Regions from separate parts of the Homo sapiens genome. Here region 2 is linked to region 1. Evidence: fine-mapped expression QTL. A gene starts in region 1. The other region holds a variant in brackets. All regions are shown on one strand. Distances are from middle to middle.

Region 1 (9,711 bases):
ACGGGTTCAAGTGATTCTCGTGCCTCAGCCTTCTGAGTAGCTGGGACTACAGGCGCACGCTGCCATACCTGGTTAGTTTTTGTATTTTTAGAAGAGACGGGTCTCACCATGTTGGCCAGGCTGTTCTCGACCTCCTGACCTCAGGTAATCTGCCCACCTTGGCCTCCCAAAGTGCTGGGATTACAGACGTGAACCACTGTGCCCTGCCCATAGTAAAACTTTTAATGTCCAATTGATAACCACTGAGGTCCATTGATGAAGGGAATTCAGAGGGGAGGAAATGTTAACTGGAAACCTCAAGCCTCCAGATTTGCTTTCAGCTCACATTTCTCCTCTTTTGGTGCCTGAAATCACTTCTTCCCGTTTGCAAAGTCCTTTGTGTGTGTCTCCACAATGGCCCTTATTCCATTGTATGGAGGTTGTTTGCATCCGGTGTGTTTTCCTTCCCAGTGGCGAGCTCCCTGGGAAATTGCCTTGAACTCCCTGCAGGGCTGGACACAGAAAGGTAAACTCTGAAGGAGAAGAGGATAAATGAGAGAATGGAAGCTCTATCTGCAGCTGCTTCCTGAGGATTAAAAAGCTTTGAGTCAAGGAAAGGAATGGAAACTCCAGTTCCTGGACTATTCAGAAAGCCAATTTGATTATTCAGGCAAAAGGAATCTATATTTTAGAAGGCCGATAGGTTTGTGGCTTTCCAGCATAGTAGACTTCTATTTACAAGAACTCTGACCCAGCAGCTTTATTCATGGCAGATACAGGTGCTGAGAGAAGAATTTGAAGGTTCCCTGTTTCTTTTGCTTTTTTATTTTTTAGAGACAGTCTTACTCTGTTACCCAAGCTGGAGTGCAGTGGGGCGATCATAGCTCAGTGCCACCATACCTGGCTAATTTTTAGGTTTATTTCGTAGAGACAGGGTCTCGCTATGTTGCCTAGGTTGGTCTCGAACTCCTGGGCTCAAGCGATCTCCACCCCCCCATCCCCTGCACCCTTGCTTTAGCCTCTAAAAGTGCTGGGATTGTAGGCATGAGCCACTGCATCTGACTTCTTTTGCATTTTTGGCTCAGCTGCTCCTGAGTGGAGTCTGAAGCTGGCTGTCTTTGACATATTCCCATCCCTCCATCCTCACCCCCACTCCTCCATTTGGATTTCCCTTCTTGCTCTCAGCTGGCTGTCAATGATTCCCTACTTAGCTATTTATATTTAATAGCCTACTCTTCCTTGAATCAAACCCATTTTTCAAGAAGACCACGAGTTGTTAGTGCAGTTAATTGAAAGGAATAAAGCCATAATGGTGGAATTATAGATGAAAATGGAAAACCCCTTGAAATCTTAATGATTTAGTCAACTGGGTGCTTTGCCTTCTTATAATACAAGTTCATCCCGGCAGCCACACAGAACAGTTACTACCAAGCTGTGCTGGCTAGCTTGCGCAAGCCAGAAATTAAGTGCACCAACTCTGAGTCAGGCTGACAGGTTCAAATCCCGGGTCTTCTACTTATTACTTATGTGACCCTGGACAAATTATAAAACCTTTCTTTTTTTTTGAGGAAAAAAAAAAAGTCTCACTCTGTTGCCCAGGCTGGAGTGCAATGGCATGATCTTGGCTCACTGCAACCTCTGGCTCCCGGGTTCAAGTCATTCTCCTACCTCAGCCTCCCGAGTAGCTGGGATTACAAGGCACCTGCCACTACACCCAGCTAATTTTTGTATTTTTAGTAGAGACGGGGTTTTACCATGTTAGGCTGGTCTCGAACTCCTGACCTCAGGTGATCTGCCTGCCTTGGCCTCCCAAAGTGTTGGGATTACAGGCGTGAGCCACCGTGCCCGGCCTATAAAACCTTTCTTAACCTGGTGCTTTATCTATAAAATAGGCCTGTGTTCCCTACCTCATCTGGATATTGTGTTCAAGGAGATAATCCATTTAAAAGACCACAAGAGCCTGGCCCACAGTTGGTGTTGAGTAAATGCTAGCCATTATTGTTCCATTCTTGCATTGGAGTGTCTGAATTTCCTCATAGAGGCACAAAAACCTGATGTACAACCATGTATTTGTGTAGGCAGGATGCAACAGCTTGTAGTGGACAAAAAAATAGTCTAACACTAACTTGCTGAGTGACCATGCCAACTCACTTACTTTGGGTCTGTTTCACATCTGTAAAATGAGAGGGAGAGGCAGGGGTTCCCAGGATGGAAAACTTAAATGTCTATACAGGCCAGATAAATAAAATCACTAGTGACTTGGGCTGGGTATAAGACAATAGGGAGTTACGGTAAACTAGAAAGCTTTTCAACTCTGAGTGTGGTCTACTGACCACGAGGATCGACAGAGCCCTGGAGTTTGTTAGAAAGAGCAACATCTCAGAAACCACCCCAGATCTATCCAAATGCAATCTGCATTTTAACAAGATCCCCCGTGATTTGTATGCTCATGAAACTTTGAGCCAGGCATGGTGGCTTATGCCTGTAATTCCAGCACTTTGGGAGGCAGAGGCGGGTTGGATCACTTGAGTCCAGGAGTTCAAGACCAGCCTGGCCATTATGGCGAAACCCCGTCTCTACTCAAAATACAAAAATTAGCCAGTCATGGTGGCACACACCTGTAATCCCAGCTACTTGGGAGGCTGAAGTACAAGAATCATTTGAACCTGGGAGGCCGAGGTTGCAGTGAGCCGAGATTGGGCCACTGCACTCCAGCCTGGGTGACAGAGTAACTGTCTCAAAACAAAACAAAACAAAAAAACAAACAAAAACAACCTTTGAGAAAATTGTTTTTTTTTTTTTTTTTTTTTTTTGGTTCGGAGTCTCGCTCTGTCGCCCAGGCTGGAGTGCAGTGGCGCGATCTCGGCTCATTGCAACCTCCGTCTCCCGGGTTCACGCCATTCTCCTGCCTCAGCCTCCTGAATAGCTGGGACTACAGGAGCCCAACACCACGCCCGGCTATTTTTTTTTTGTATTTTTAGTAGAGACAGGGTTTCACTGTTAGCCAGGATGGTCTCGATCTCCTGACCTCGTGATCCTCCCGCCTCGGCCTCCCAAAGTGCTGGGATTACAGGCGTAAGCCACCGCGCCCGGCCCAAGAAAATTGTTAAGGTGCATAAGCCATCTAAAGGCATTCAAAAATTTTCTTTCTTTTTTTTTTTATGTTAGCCGAATAAACAAACTTCGGGCTTCATCAGGCCCTATGCTGCCAGCAAGTGACCAGCGTGGTTGGTGGAGGGCTCTAGGAGCTGCCAGCTTTAGGGGTCTCGCTGTCTGAGAGAGATCCTTTCATTAAAGGTTAGGGCTCTAGGCACGTGAATATGTAGCAAAGACCAAGCCTGGATTGCTTAGAACAGTAATTCCTGGAGTGGTAAGTGCCTGAAAAGTTACCCGCTGAGCCCTCCGCCTTCTGACAGGTAAACTGTTGTTGCCCCCATTTTGCAGACAAGATAAATGAGGCCCTGGGAGACTCACTGACCCAAGTCTAGACACCAGGAAGTGGTGGTGGTGGGTATACTCCCCCAGGAAAGCAGGTAATCTTGGGTTGTTACAATCAGTGACCAGACCAGTTTCCAAGGCCTGGAAGGTTTATTGATTTCTTTATATTCTCCAATGCATAATAACTGTTCTCTGTTTCTCTCGGCACCTCCCTGCGACTTCCTGGCAGCCCTGGGGACAGAGGGTTTCCTCCTTCTGGACAGAGAAGGCCCAGAGTCGGCTTCTGAACGGATATCCGGCCCGCAGGATGCAGAGGAGGCAAAGGCCTCATTGTTCTTTGGGGCCTGCCTGCCCCGCCCCCAGCTGTAGGACACTCGTGGCAGATCCCGGGTGACCGAAGACAGCCCATTTCCAGGAGTGGGGCCTTCGGAGCGGAGGGAGCAAGGAAACGGGGCTGAGCACAGACCTGGAGTCTGATGTTCTGAGCATAACACTGGAAGGAGCTAAGAGCCCCAAAATAAATAAGACCGGAATTTAAAAACGTTAATCCCACGCCGGCTTGGCGCTGGCCTGGCTGTTACTCATTAACGCTCCCCACGGCGGAGACTCCGGCGACTCCGTCTGCGTTTTTATTACTTAATCTGGCTGGGTTTGGCTGCAGGGAGGCTCGTGGATTTGCTGGCCGGGTGTGCTGGAAGGCAGTTTATTCACAGAATAAGCAGCTTCCCACGCTGGACCCTGAGCCCCAGGCGCCGTCCGCGTAGACCCCGCGCCGCGCACCGCGGCCGGCGGGGGGCGCTCGGGTCGCACCGAGAGCAGCGCGGGCAGCCAGCGCCGGGTCGCAGCCGACCCGCAGAGCCCTTCGCGCCCTCCGAGGAAACAAAGTGCATCTTTGTCCGCGGCCCGAGGCGCCGCGTGGGAGACGCTGGGCAGGGGCCAGGCCGGGCCGGCCGCCGCCGCGTGCGGGGACCCTGGGCGCGCGTCACTGACCCGGGACTCAGACCCTCGCGGGCCTGGCGCGGACCGGAGGAAGCGGGCTGTGGCGCGCGGCCGAGCTGGCAGCCCTCCCACTCCGAGCACGGCTCGGGACCCGCACTGGCTCCTGCCGGGCCGCGGCGCTTCACGCGCCGTCACCGGGGCCCGTGCACTCCGCTTTCCGGGCTGGCGACGGGGCGGGAAGGGGGCAAGCGGGAGCCTGCGGGGGGGTGCTGGGGACTTCGGCTTGGCTGGGCCGCCTTTGAGTCGCCTGTCGGCCGGGCGGTGCCCGCCTTCGCTTTCGGTGCCGTCCCGGGGCGGGTCCTCGCTCCGACAGCCGCGCGCCAGCCCAGCTCAGCCCCGGCGCCGCGCGGCCGGGAGGACTCCAGCTCCCAGCAGGCCCCGCGCCGCGAGCACCGAGGCAGGAGGCGCGCCTGGGCCGGCGCTTGCGCAGTGCGGCCGCCCGAGCCTGCTAGTACCACACCCCCGGGAGGGACTGAGGGGAGGCAGAAGCATCCGAGGCATTAAAGCATCCGAGGGAGCCGGAGGGGAGGAGAATGGAGTGACAGAGACACGCGGAGGGTGGGGGGTGGGGGGGAGCGTGTTGAGGGAGGGGGGAGGGGGGACACAGAGGGAGGAAGAAGCGGCGGCGGCGGCGGCGGCGGCGGCGGCTCCTCTTTGCAGAGGGGGAAACTCTTGGGCTGAGAGCAGGAATAATGCGGTAGGCAAGGCGGGCTGCTGGCTCCCCCGGCTCCGGCAGCAGCGGCGGCAGCCCGAGCAGCGGCAGCAGCAGCGGCAGCACCCCAGGCGCTGACAGCCCCGCCGGCCGGCTCCGTTGCTGACCGCCGACTGTCAATGGAGCTGGAAAACATCGTGGCCAACACGGTCTTGCTGAAAGCCAGGGAAGGTAAGAGGCAGGGCCGGTACGTGCCCGGCGCGTCCGCCGCGGGCCAGGGTGCGGGTGTCGGGTGGCGTGCGGGCTGGGGCTGCGCCCGTGCAGGATGCCCGCTGCCGGCGAGTGGGTCGCGAGCAGGACACTTCGGAGAGCGGCTCTGCAGACCCTTCAGGGTTCCTGCCTTGGGGCTCAGAGAATCTGGACTTGGGCTGAGAAGGTTGCAGGGATTTGGATGCTAACATATCTCCTAGTTTCCAGCGCTCGCCCTGCAGAGCGTGCCATCTCGGCAGCTGTTGAAAGGTCAGTTGGAAAAGCATTCATTCGGGGAGCGACGAGCAAACATGCACATAAAATAGCGTTTCAAGTCGGCCCGGGATGGTTCTGTGTGAACTGGTGTGTGTGTTCGAGGGGCGGGGGTGGAATGAGCAGAAGCCAAGTCTTTGCCTGCGCAGGCTGAGTTGATATAGACTATTGCTGGAAACCATCCGCTGGGATGTTTCTTAGGGAAATCCCGTCGTGTGGAAGGAAGCCTTTTAAAGGCAAAGTCAGATGTTGAGGAATTAGCCTTTTCATAGAATTATCAAAGGATGGCTGTACAGACCACCTAGAAAATAATTCAGTATTTCAGGTTTTTCTTTTCTGGGAGTGTGATAACTGAAATTGTTAGATTTTGGCTCAGTTAAGAAAAGAAAGGTAAGTGTGCTGGTGCTTTAGATACGTTTTCTATGCAAATCATTAGATTTCCTGCATTTAGCTGGCAGGAAATATTGTCTAAATGGAGTGTGTAAGATCCTGAGTCAAACCCTAAGAACGCATATTTTGACTCTTCCTTTTGATGAAAAACAGAAAAAAGGGGGGGGAGGCAGAAACTTGGGTGCTTCCTGAAATGATTGTGTTGTGTCCATGTAAACATATGTATTTAGGAATACCTGGAATTTATGTCGCATATTTTCCTTTTTTTTTTCTGGTCAAGATTTGAGCTCTAGTGTGCGACCTTTTTCATAAAAGGGGAAGAGGTTTTTCCCTTTCACGGGAGAACGCTTTATTTGATACAAGGTAGAAGGCAGACTGAGTAAGGGCTTGAGTTTAGAAGGATACTCGGTGAGCAGCCCATGAAAATGTCTTACCTGCTTAATATTTTCATTCACCTACTTTGATGAATGAAGGGAAGAATTTCTGGCCAGCAATAAAACGATTCGTGTTTATTCAGCCCGTTCCATCACCTTGTGGCTCCCTACACACTGTGGGGGTAGGTGATGCATAGCCTTCCGTGGGCAGCGTTTCAGCAACTCAACCCGGCATTCGTGTCTTACTTTCGTCGTCACTTGTCACTCTAAAGCAGCCAGTGGGCAAGAAGGTTTATTTCAGAAGCCCCGAAGGGAGGCAGTGCTTTGAAAACCCCAGCAGAGTTTAAAATATTCAGGTTAGTCTCCCTCCCATTGCTTAGCTTTGGTGGGAATAAATTTTTAGGAGAGGCTTGTTACTTGGTGACTTCAGGTTCTAAGGCCTGAGCTGTGTGTGTGTGTGTGGTTTTTTTTTTTTTTTTTTTTTTTTTTTCCTAACCTGACATTTTTAGTGGACAGGATCTAGGTGGGTGCTGGTAGGCTCTCCTCTGGGTTGGGGAATGGTCCTGAAAGGGAGGAAGCAGAGAAAACAGCCCTCCACCTCCCCCGCCCCTCTTTCAGCCTTTGCAGCTGGCCACCTAGTGGTGGGACACGGTTGTGTATCTCAGGATTCGGGGGCTGGGAAAGTTTTCACTCTCGCTCCATTCTGAAATTATTTCTTGGGAAATCACTGGGTCTGATGGTACTGGAGCCTTGCAAGTTTCGCTGGTTCCTCCTGTTGCCCAGGGAATCTGCCCCCGACATTTGCTGCTGTAGATATTTGTTTGCCTGATAGATGCTTTTTTTCTTCCCTGAGCATTTGGTTGCTTCTTTTATAATGCTTTGCTTAGAGTGGGCAAAGTGATATCAATTCCACCCGCCCCCTCCAAATTGTTCTCCCCAGTATTTTTTCACCAACGTGAATTTACTGTCTGATATTGTTGTTCGTTAGGCCAACAAATTGGGTTTTTTTCCCAGAGCCTTGGAGAAGAGAGCTGCAGGCTGGAAGCTTGTGTGGAGTGACCGACTCCCATTGGGGCAGAATTACAGTGATTGAAAGTGCTCAAGAATGTGCCTTTCACTTTTTTTTTTCCTTTTAAAGGCTTTTTCAATTTTGCTGTGAGAGTTTGGTCGTCATCTCATGGTGAGAAAATAGCTCTTGATGATGCCTTGGAAATGGAGAGGGCCTGCGGAAGCAGGGAGAGACTGACACGTGAACAAGAAAAATTAATCATTTAATGGAAACCTCATTTACAATTTGCATCTCTCCCCTTCTTTCTCTCTTATGCCTAGAGGAAAGCCATGATTTTAAGTGCTTCCAGTTTCTTTTGGCTGGGCCTTTATTAGAGACTTGAGCCCATATATCCTAATTAGTGTGGACACTTTTAGAAATTAAAGCAATTTATGTTTCTCTTCTCAGTTCTCATATATTTGAATTTATTTTACTAAACTTAGTAGTTCTCCAAATAACCATATTATCTAAATATTCAGAAATGAAATCTTCAGTCAGTTTAGTGAAATATCTAATATAAAACAGTATATTAAAAAAATCTGAGTTGTTTAAAAGGTTTAAAAACACTTCTTAAAGATTCTTGTCAGTGGTTACAGATGAGAAATATAATTGGCAAATGTGAAATTTAATTTAGTTCACTTAACAAAATACACCGTAAGCAATTTAAAATTTGGCTTTCAAGTAAAAGTCACATTTGTCCCAAACAATAGAGAAACAGACCTTGAAGAAAGACAGGCACACTTTGAAAATGCTGTAAAATAATTTGTAGTTGTCCATGTTGGTGGGTAACACTGGGACCTATCTTTTCTTTTTGTTTTGCATTAAAGACAGATGGCTCCTAAATTCACTGTATCTTCAAAGTCTTACCGTAATAAGACATAATATAAAGTGGAAAGCATTAATGTAGCAATAAAATAGAAAGCCTGTAAGTGGATTAGAGTAAAATGATGGATTGTTAGTAATTAGAAAATATAGCAAGCAAGCTTCATGAACACTTGTGATAATTATTTTAAAATAAGAAAAGGTAGAGGTATGGGTTCAAGATTTTGAACCACGGAAATGTATTTTGGGGCCTGTTTATTTGTCCTGGGTCTCATGAGAAAACATCAACTCGATCACTCTTAGGAACTTTAGATTGCTCTCCTAAAAAGTGCTTAAGGAAAAAAAGAAAGAAGTTGAGACTGAATTCATGGCAATTTATGGGAATGAGCTAAGTGATTAAGCATTTCATGAAAAAGAGGCCCAGACTAACTCTATCTATTTATTTACATTTCAGAATCTCAGAAAATTGGCAGGCGACCTAATGTTGAAATAATAATGAGAAGGAGAGTTTGCTGAGTGCCTTTTGTGTGTTTCTTTTTGGTTTTATTGTTGCAGTAAAGGTTTTTGTGTTTTTCTCATCTTCTAGATCTGTTGCCTTTCTTCTGAGTGAACAGTGGTGAGAAAAAATTTTGCAAGGCCCCGCTTTTCCTTTCTTCACAGGCCAGCAGTAGCCATATCTGATCAAAAAAGATACCTGAAGGAATATTGATCACATTTTCCTGAGGCCCTAGCAAGCACAGGAATTGAGAAGTTAGGACTGGAACAACTTTGTCATTTGTCACAATTGCCAAACATTAGAATACACAGGAACCGTTTTTTCAGGTAACTCTGTGACTTGGCTGGATCTTCCTGATCATCAAGATTAGCACCTCGGGGCCTGGAAGAGGTTAGGGAGGGCAGGAAGAAGGAGTGAGCCAGCATCCAGCTCTGCGTGGGGCAGGCTATGGCGTGGACAGACTTAACATTCCACAGCACGGCTGAAAGCCCTGGACCTCTTTCCCTTGCACCCCTAATTCATGGTGATAAAACCAAAACATGGTGAATTAGGTTATTAGAACGTTGGAACATCTCTGAAGCTCAAAGCCCTCTTATGGCTATGTGAAGGCATACGTGGAGGCATACGTACTCCACCCTGAAGCTTCTCCTTCAATTTTAATGTTAATCTTACCAAGCGACAGCTTTCATCCTGGTTAAGGCAGCTCGGTGTGTGTAAAAGCAGCCTGGCCTGTTAAACACAATGCCGTTAAATCAAACTGCCTTTCTTTTTTTTTTTTTAAAGTTTCCTTTTCAGTACTGACAACTTGGAGGTAGAGAAACCAAAAGCAATGTTTTCAGAAGGCCTTTTGCTTTCTTAAAGATTTCAAACGATGATTGTAGTTAATCTGGCTGCCTGTTTGAAAAACCATCAGATAAATGCCCACAAGGCTCTCATCTTTCAGTAGCTTAGCTGCTGCTTGTCAGATTCTAAACTCCAAAGTGCTTGACTC
Region 2 (9,711 bases), 450 kb after region 1:
CAATTAACACATATGTTGTATATGTATTATATGTATTCGTGCAATAAAGTAAGCTAGAGAAAAGAACATGTTAAGAAAATCATAAGGAAGAGATTTTACATTTACATAAGGAAGAGTAGTACACTTACTACTCATTTAGTGGACGTGATCATCATAAACGTCATCATCCTCATTATCTTCACGTGGAGGCTGAGGAGGGGAAGGAAGAGGAAGGGTTGATTCTCCTGTCAAGGGGTGGCAGAGACAGAAGAGGTGGAGGAGGTGGAAGGGGAGACTGGAGAGGCAAGCACATCGGTGTAACTTTTATTGAAAAAAAATCCATGTACAAGTGGACCTGCTCAATTCAAACCCATGTTAAGGGTCAACTGTACAGTAATCTGAAGTATGTAACCTGATGTTACATTTCTCTCAATCATTTCTCTCTTTCTTTCTCTCTCTTTCTTTTAAAGAGATAGGGTCTTGCTCTGTCGCTTAGGTTGGCATGAAGAGCAAAATCATAGCTCATGGCAGCTTCAAACTCCTGGGCTCAAATGAGCCTCCCACCTCAGCCTCCTGAGTAGCTGGGACTACAGGCATAAGCCACTGCACCTGGCTTATTTTTTGTTTATGCAGAGATGGGGGTCTTACTGTGTTGTCCAGGCTGGTCTCAAACTCCTGGACTCAAGAGGTCCTCCAGTCTTGACTTTCCAAAGTGCTGGCATTATAGGCATGAGCCATGGTGGCAAGCCCTCATCAGTTATTTTTCTATGATTCTGTCTCTCTGTCCCCTCCTTACAAGGAAAGTAATTTTGAAACAACCAATCCAGTCTTGGTTCTTTGTTTCTGCTTTCTTCAGCCCTTCTCTGTCTATAAAACCAACCTCTTCTGCTCAGCTCATGGGAGCACTTATTCTAATTTAATGGAGATGTTGCCCAATTTCTAGAATCACAAATAAGATCTTTAACAATAAAAGTTAAAAAATGAAAATCAACAACAACAACAACAAAAAAGATCTTTAAATGTGTTGTAATTTTCTCCTTTGACAGGTTACAAGTGCAATTGAATAAACCAAACAAAAAATGTCATGGTTATTCGGTCTTTACTTCCCAAATCAGGGTCAAGATATAAGATAGCAAGAACCAATCTCTACCATAAAAAAGATCCAGACCCAAGAAAATGTGATTTATCTTTAAAGCTGCAACGAAACTTTCTTTTTAGTCTAGGAGACTAAAAGCCATCAGTTGATACAATCTCTTTTTTTCTTGAAGTTTCCAAAGGAAGGCAGGTGAGTTTGCACTGACTTCCATTTTCTCCCTGGCTTCCTTCCGGTGTCAGATGAGAGTCCCCGCGCTCCTCCCGGACAGCCCTCAGGGTCCTCGGCTATCATATATGGGGGAGGGGGTGGAGGTGGGCGAGATGGTTTTGTTTGTACAGGAAGGACGGGCGGCAGGCACGGGGAGCACGGGCTCCGGCCCCGGGAACACTCACTCGGCGCAAAGGAGAGGGAGAGAGCGACTATGAAAGCCGAAACCCGCCCGGGGCGCACGGAGGACGGCCCCAGTCCAGCTCGTCCGGCTTCCCACCCGCAGGCGGACCCCGAAGCCGCGCCCGCGCCCGCCCGCGGCGACTCCGGCCCGGGCACGCGCACGAGTCGGAAGGGGGAGGGGCGGGAGGAGGTGGGGGAGGGGCGAGCGGGCCGAGGCCCCGCCCCCGCTCCTCTGCCCCGCCCGCCGCGATTATAGCCGATGACTCAGGGCGGAGCTCCGCATCCAACCCCGGGCCGCGGCCAACTTCTCTGGACTGGACCAGAAGTTTCTAGCCGGCCAGTTGCTACCTCCCTTTATCTCCTCCTTCCCCTCTGGCAGCGAGGAGGCTATTTCCAGACACTTCCACCCCTCTCTGGCCACGTCACCCCCGCCTTTAATTCATAAAGGTGCCCGGCGCCGGCTTCCCGGACACGTCGGCGGCGGAGAGGGGCCCACGGCGGCGGCCCGGCCAGAGACTCGGCGCCCGGAGCCAGCGCCCCGCACCCGCGCCCCAGCGGGCAGACCCCAACCCAGCATGAGCGCCGCCACCCACTCGCCCATGATGCAGGTGGCGTCCGGCAACGGTGACCGCGACCCTTTGCCCCCCGGATGGGAGATCAAGATCGACCCGCAGACCGGCTGGCCCTTCTTCGTGGACCACAACAGCCGCACCACTACGTGGAACGACCCGCGCGTGCCCTCTGAGGGCCCCAAGGTGAGCCGGGCCCGCGGCCCGCCCTGGTCGGTGGCGCCACCTCGACGGCAGGCGGCGGGGAGTGGGCTGGGCCGGGGGGACGCGAGGCGGCGGGGCCCGGGGGTCGGCGAAGGCCCCTCGCGGGCGGACACCGGCTCCGCGCCCCGCCACACACTCCCGCTGCGCCCGGACGAGTCCCCGCTCCGGACCCGCCCTTGACAGGCGTCGGGGCGAAAGGAGGCCCCGGGATTCGGTGGCCCGGGAAGCGACCCCGCAGTGGCTCCGGTGCCGTCCACGGCTCGACTCCAGGGCGGAAGGCCGGGTGTCCAGCGCTGGCCTCGCGCTCTAGGGCTGGGAGAGGGGCGGCCGGCCTGGTCAGCTCCGGAGGCCCCGGCCCACCGTGGCCCCTGCTGCCCGCTCGGCCTCCGGGCCCGGGACCCGCGGCGCACCCTGCTGACCGCGGACTCGAGGGGGACACTCGCAAGCTTGGATGGTGGTTTTGGGGGGAATTTTACCGCTCAAGTTCTCCAACTTGGTTGAGGGGTATCTTGGCTACTGTCCCATGTTAGGCACCCAATGACTCTGGAGGCTGGTGTCAAAACATTCATATATATATGTGTGTGTGTGTATTTTAAATTAAAATTGTATTATTGTTTGAAAGTGCTTTCAATATGAACGTATCCTAGTATGATTTGTAAAATAAAAAACAGGGTGTGCTTCTCCCCAGCAGTTTCTAGAGATCTAGACTAGAGATCTGAGACTGTCTTACAGTTGGCCATTGCCTTACCACATTGCCTCACACTGGAGAGAAAGAGAATGATACGTGTATATTTATAATGGCATTCGCTTCCTGCCTTGTTATGGTATTAAAATACTTAGGATTTGTTACCAGTACACAAATAACTGACTAATGATACTCTTGTGAATACAGCAGAAGTATGTCTCATTTACATACATGCAAGGATATATACTTCTTAATCCCCAAGAGCATGAAATTTGAAAATGTAAATTTGGAATGAGTGTGTTAATTTTCAAAAATCAGAGTTAGTTATACTATTCTTTCAATTTTTTATAAATTTGAGCTTTCAGGATAAAAAGTTTTTAAAATAAATATGTTATACTTAAAGCTGAATTGTTAACGCCGTCTGGGCAAGATAAAAGCAGCAAAGAGCTGGTAAATTATTTTGAAGATTTAAAAACTCACCAAATTAAAACTGCTGTGTAACCCATTGTTTTAGAAGAAAGACCTGTATTATTTCCCTTCATCTTTATGCACTTTTTGTTTTAACAATATTGATAAAACTCCGGTGCCCAGCAGTGAGACCGTGTACAGGCAGCAGTTTACATTTACGAGAGATTAGTTGTATATTTATTCTTGAAAATTAGTACAAGAGGCTGTAATTAGCTGGGATGGGCACAGTTACATATACCTTTTTGTGTGTCTGTTCCACCCATTTTTGGGTGAAACTGACACTCATTTCAAACCACCTTTCTTAGGAGTCTGCGTGGATGTACATGATCTTTAGTGTGGTTTACAACTATTATTTTGAAGCCTTCTTCCTGTAGACATAGGGATAGTGGTATCTGTTGGCAGCCTTTGTTGTGAGTGAAGATCAAGTTTGAACATAAACATTCCCAGCACTTTGTTCTCAGCATGAAACTTACCCAGCAAGTTGAGATCTTCCTGTACCCACCTGGTGCATGGGTTAGGCTGTGATTTCATAAACCTTATTAAAAGAAAAAAAGCAGGTTTAGTTACCATTATTCTTGTCAGCAAATACAAAGAACTACTAAATCAGAAGTCTGATGCTGGGAAGATTTATTTGAAAATTTCACGGTCAAAATTTTAAAGTTGAAATGTCCTTGAAGATCTCTTATGTTAGGCTTCTTTATTTTCTGAAACCCAGAGAGTTCAGGTGTGACTTTGAAGGTCATCCAGCTAGTACCAACAACAGGGAGAGAACTAGTGTCAGGAAAGTCCTAATAAGAGGCAGTGTGTCTCTTCAGAAGTTGGAAGTGAGTGTTTTGGGAAACTGAGGCATGCAGGCTAGAATACTTGATTATTTTTGTGCCCTCCTGGCCACCAAGTTATTGGGTCACTGACCTCTGTGCTGAGGTTGCTTGGATTTTGATGATGGGACTGATGAACTCAAGAAAAGAGTTCCCTTTACCAAGTGAATGACTTGAGACTTGTCAGCATGGCACCAAAACTTAAGGAGAAAACTAACATTCAGCCCATGAGCTGTTTGTGCTTCATTGCTTTCAATCCTGTGCTTTGACACACACAATATCAGGTTGCACTTGTGTGAGTTACACCTTACTGGAGACTAAATGTAGTGGAAAATCCTTGAATATCATTTTGTATTTGAAATTGGCTTCTCAATGCATAATGAGAAAAAGGCCCTTGCAGAAAACAAAGGGCGATTTTGGAGGAGCTGAGCTGAGGCCCGTCTGAGC[A/G]TCATCATCTTCAAGAGGAAATGCTGTCAATCAGTAAAAAGCTGTTCATTGAGCATGAGGAGCTCAAGAGACGACCTCTCTTTTGGGGGAGGACTCAGCTTCAGGATGTTTAAAATTTAATCACGTTAGTAAGAAAATGGAAAGAAAAGACTAGACCTTTGTATTTTATTTCGTCTTCTACTGCCGTCTTGCAGTTGATCTTCCGCCTTCTCCTGAAGTAGTTAGGACAACTCCCTGTTTTCACAGAGGGGCAGAGCGAAAGCAAGTATCTTCTGTCATTGCTGAAGCAGGACGGCTCCCGGCAAAGATGCTGGGCTTCATCCAGCCCCATTCTAAGCAGCTGGGCCTCCCCACCTGCAGTCTTCCTGGATTTTGATTTTCTGCACACTTGGGCTTCCCACTAATTTGGCAAGTTCATACCAGTCCAGGCCCTTTCCTGGCAGAGGATGGCATTCAGTGCTGGTGCAGCCACTCCTCCAGGCTCCTCCCTGAATAAACAGAGGCCGGATGTTCTGGAGTGCTGTTCCCGCCAGGCCTCCTTGGGATGAGAGGGAGACCTTCCTCCCTCATGGAGCAGGGCCGCTCTAGCTCCATGGATCTTGGGGGTTACCAGTCTGGCACTCTCCAGGGAGTCCTGTTAAGAACACAGATTGTGGCTGTGTCTCATCGCCTCCCTGCCCCAACCCCATGTTCAAATCTGAATTGCTCAGTGTAGGGCCCAGAAAACTATTAAGTCCAGAAAGCTTTTTTGGTGGTTCTGATTCTGCTGCACTGGCAGTGGGAGCCACGGATGGCCAGTGATCCCATTTTGGGGAGGAGGAGCTGCGGCTTAGTGCCTCCTGAACATCTATCCTGCAGAGCATTTTCCCAAGCCTCCATTTTCCTTCTTGGGGAAACTCCCCAGGTACGCGGGCTTCTGGAGGTGTGAATATGGGGATGACATGGGAAGCGAGCCGAGACAGCACCTTGCAAAGTCTGGCAGGGTGGCTGGCAGTGCGAGAGTGGGGAGGTGGTCCAGAGATCTTCCTGGACCCCAGGAAGAAGCAAGCCAGAGCCTTTTCTTTTTGTCTTGCCCATCTGGCAGAATCTCACCATAATCATTTAACAGATTATACTCAGGCACTGTGACAGGGAGATAGAAACATCCTTTCAGATAACACTGGAAATGTTTCGAGTTATGATTGAAGTAGAGAGACCCATTTATTTTGCTTAAGGTTCAGCAGAGCCTCCTGAATTTTCTTAAAGATGAGATCGTTTTGCTCTTTCCAGATCTATTGCAAGCTGTTATGCCTCTTAGCAGAGGCGGAGCACAATCAGGAAATGAGTGGCCGTTCTCTCCTTCGTATTTCCAGCAAGTTGCAGTTGTGGCTGAGCAAGTTCCTGTGCGACTGCATGAAAGTGATTTGTTGGGGGGCAGATGAACAGCATGGCCAGATGCCTTGGAGCCCAGCTCATCCAGGACTTTCATTTTCCCCTCTGAAGAACAGCCTGTGTTGTTCACATGAGAACCGACTGCACCTCCGAGAACATCATTTGTCCCGTTTTGTAGGGTAGATTTGCCCTTTATGAGGGTGGAGCCTGTACACAGGACCTGCGGCAGCGTTTGACGTTGGCCAGGGCTGGGAAGGCTTAACTGTTGGATGCTATCAGGGCTGCTTGTGAGTCAGAAAGCTTCATACCACCCATGAGGCTTGCTTAGTGCTGTCCTCGTTTCTGGAATGACACACAGTCACCTTATATAAACCACTCTACATGTTTATTACTTTCTATTGACATTTAAAAATGATGTTCTGATGTTTATCATCCAAAGTAGAAAACCATTCATCATCCAGACCTACTCTTTCTCCTTTAAGTTTTGCTGTTTTAATATTGCTCTTAAATGTTTAAGAGAGCTTACAGAAGAAACTGAAGACAAAGGCCTTGCTTATTAGGATCTTTGAGACCCTCTGGCACTGGCGAACACGAGTGAACCCTGTGTCACACTTGACCGTGTTATTCTCCAGCCCCTCCTGGGTTCCCTTTTGTTGTGAGTCAAGTAGACACCTCTGATCTGCTTCTGCCTCAGAGCATAGACTCAGCTGGCCTTCTTTTTTTTTTTTTTTTTTTTGAGACGGAGTCGCACTTTGTCTCCCAGGCTGGGGTGCCGTAGTGCGATCTTGGCTCACTGCAACCTCCGTCTCCTGGGTTCAAGCGATTCTCCTGCCTCAGCCTCCCAAGTAGCTAGGATTATAGGTGAGCGCCACCATGCCCATCAGCCGGCCGTCTGAGGCAGGCTCCAGAGCCCCTTGTTTTGCAGGTGCAGGATTCATCTGTATGCATCATGTGGCACATGTGATACCATGTGAGGTATCTGGTGTTACTAAGTCGTCACGTATTTCGATGAAGGTATCTTTGGGACCTTGGCAGCCTTTTAGGAAGCCAGGCAGCTTGCAAAAGCTTAGGAAGAATTTGGGGGGAGAGGAATGAATGTAGTATTTTTCTGTCTGTCAACACACACACATATATATATATATGTGCCAGATATGAGTGGGTGCTTTTGGTAACCTTATCTCTAAATCCTCACCAGCTCTTTGAACTAGAAACTATGAAGTGTCTTACACATGGGACAGCAGATTTGGAGAGGCAGTGTGCCTGGCCTGTGATAAACAGAAAGACTTCTGTGGCTTTACCCCCATCTGAGTTCCTGAAGGGGTGACAGACAGACTTGCCTTTAGCGGGCCTGGCTGCTTTATACTCCCCAGGCACGGCTGCTTTATACTCCCCAGGCACAGCTTGAGGTGATAAACAGCCCTGAGTCCATCTTTGTATAGTTAATCAGAAATGTTGGCCTGTTTCTTGAACCTGGGTCTGGATTTAGGAGATGGGCCCGACTCTTTACTCACTCCTTTACCCCATCTGAAATTCACTGAGTGCCCACAGTGTGCGAGTCACAGTGTTAAATGCCATATAGAGGACAAGTCTGCCCACTTTGAGACTGTTCTCCACAAAGCATGTCCTGCCTCTCCCTGGTCCGAAGCAGGCTGTCTCTCTTCTGGAACCCATATTATTTTAATTTGAATCTTTTTGCTTAAGCTCTGCACTTTTCTGCTTTGTCTTGGGGTCACACCCCTGTTAGGAGTTCTGGGGCAGAGTCTGTGTGCTTCATCGCTGCCTCTTGATGCCTGGCAGGGTCCACAGGCTCAGAAAAGATGGAACGAGTGACTGTGGAGAAGGGTAGAACATGGGCCTGCCCAGAGCGCGAAGGCAGATACAGAAGAGCTGCCCGTGAAGGATGCAGGTGTGTCCCGGGAAGCCTTCCATTGGTTCCTAAGAACTGCAGAGTTGTCCTGGGCTCCTAAAGGTCCCCAGAGGCCTGCTCCTTTTTGTCACTTTGTGAATGGCCTTCTCTGCACAAAGGACTTCAGTATTGATTCCCTAAGTTCATCCTTACAGGTCTGGAGAAGCTCTTTTTTGTTTCTCCCAATGACACAGCATCTTACAGCAGGGCTGGAGAGGCTGGGAGCTGGCAGCAGCCAGACCCTACTTCCATAGCTGTGCAGAGAGCAGCCCCTGGCACTGTGAAAAGAGTCTCTTAAAAATTTTTTTTCGTGTGGCTGGCAGCAAGATCAGACACCGTATACGTGAAGGTTCTTATTCACTGTCAATTCAGAAAAGCCTAGAATCGCAGAGTGCCAGCTCTGTGCGTCAGGAGCCTGTAAACAGCTCAGCTGTCCAAGAGCTCCCAGCACAGAGCTGTGCCCCAGTGAACTGGGGAGACTTTTTACGGAAAATTCCTTAGCATTCAATTGGAGAACAAACGTTTGCTGTTTTAAAGTATCTTCCTCAGTGTTTATTAAAGTAGAATTATATATTTTTTTCAGTTATTTAAAAAATTCTTCCTTGACATTGAATGAATGAATAAATGAATGGATGGTTTAAAAATTCATACAGTGGGAGGATGGGAAGGCCCCTTCATGTGCAGAAGAAAAGCCAGCCCCTTCGCTGGCCCACCCTTTCAGGGTCAGTTCAGACCCCCAGCATCCCAGCGGGGTTAGCACTCCTTCCTGGGTTGGACGGTGTCTTCCCCGGTTCTGACAGCGCTCCATGCCGGGCGTCCCTGCAGTCTTGGGGCTGTGGTGACTCAGAATTAAGCTGAGTGCTCTCACTCTCGTGTACCCTGCCTGGCTGGCCTGATGACTCAGCATGGAGCGCTGGCTCCCTGACCCAGAGCACACTTGAACTGAATGTTCCAGGTCTGAGCCTCAGCCGAGCGTGGCTGGGCGAAATGGAAGCCTTTCTCTCCTGCTGCCTCTCCTGCTGCATTTTACCCCGGGAGATGAAGGTTTTGGAGACGTTAGTGACACATGGATGTTATCACAGTGTACAGCTGTGACAGGAGTAGCAGAAAGGTTAGCATCTACCTGGCCTTACCATCAGACAAACCTGGGTTCTAGAGATCTTAGGCAAAGCACTTACCCTTCTTGAGCCTCAGTCTCCCGTTGTGTGAAGTGGGCATAGCAACACTTCTGTTAGCAGGGTTGGGAGAATCAAGGAAGATGGTGTGTGGGAGGCGAACGTCCCAAAGCCTGAACTGATGCATGCGTGGAACTCCCGGAAACATATGCAGCCTGCTCTGTGGAGTAGAAGTGTGTTTGTGGATAGGTGTGTGGCCTCTCCACACAGCAGACTGTCCTGGCTGTCCGTGGGCCTTTCAGCTCTCAGAGAGGCCTGGGGTCTTGTTTCTTAGAAGCAAGGCCTCCTCTTATCCCCCTTGTATGGAGTGTAGCTGACTCCCCCGACCAGTGTCCAGGTGGCCCTTGGAGCCCTCCCTGGGGCTTCCCGTGCCCCTTGTGAGTGGAGGATGTAAAGGAACAGTAACAGATGAAGCTGCGGGGCCTTCGGGAGCCTTGACCCAGCTGCCAGACCCTGCGCCATGCGTCCATAGATGCATCTCCCCATCCTCTGCCCAAGATAGGCTGGGTCCTTGTGTCCTCCACTGTGCTGTGTAGAGCGCTGGCTTTACTCAGCCTCAGCTCCTCAAGGGGAGGGTCTCCCTCAGCTGTGTCTGTGCAGCCG

The links.
Region 2: its variant is fine-mapped to the expression of GRK5-IT1 in tibial artery (GTEx, PIP 0.93).

What each region holds. Positions count from the first base shown.
Region 1 is chr10:119,202,671-119,212,381 of GRCh38, forward strand. It overlaps GRK5-IT1 (GRK5 intronic transcript 1), which reads left to right and starts at 5,751. Exons shown (of 2, transcript NR_186528.1): 1 at 5,751-5,980; 2 at 8,811-9,711. It overlaps GRK5 (G protein-coupled receptor kinase 5), which reads left to right and starts at 4,901. Exons shown (of 16, transcript NM_005308.3): 1 at 4,901-5,299. The coding sequence starts at 5,248. RefSeq lists enhancers at 3,408-3,487, 3,598-3,647, 3,668-3,777 and silencers at 4,118-4,947, 5,158-5,227, 5,278-5,327.
Region 2 is chr10:119,649,636-119,659,346 of GRCh38, forward strand. BAG3 (BAG cochaperone 3) reads left to right here and starts at 1,745. Exons shown (of 4, transcript NM_004281.4): 1 at 1,745-2,220. The coding sequence starts at 2,041. RefSeq lists enhancers at 883-1,837, 1,218-1,297 and a silencer at 1,498-1,797. The variant A/G (reference allele first, on the strand shown) is at 4,657.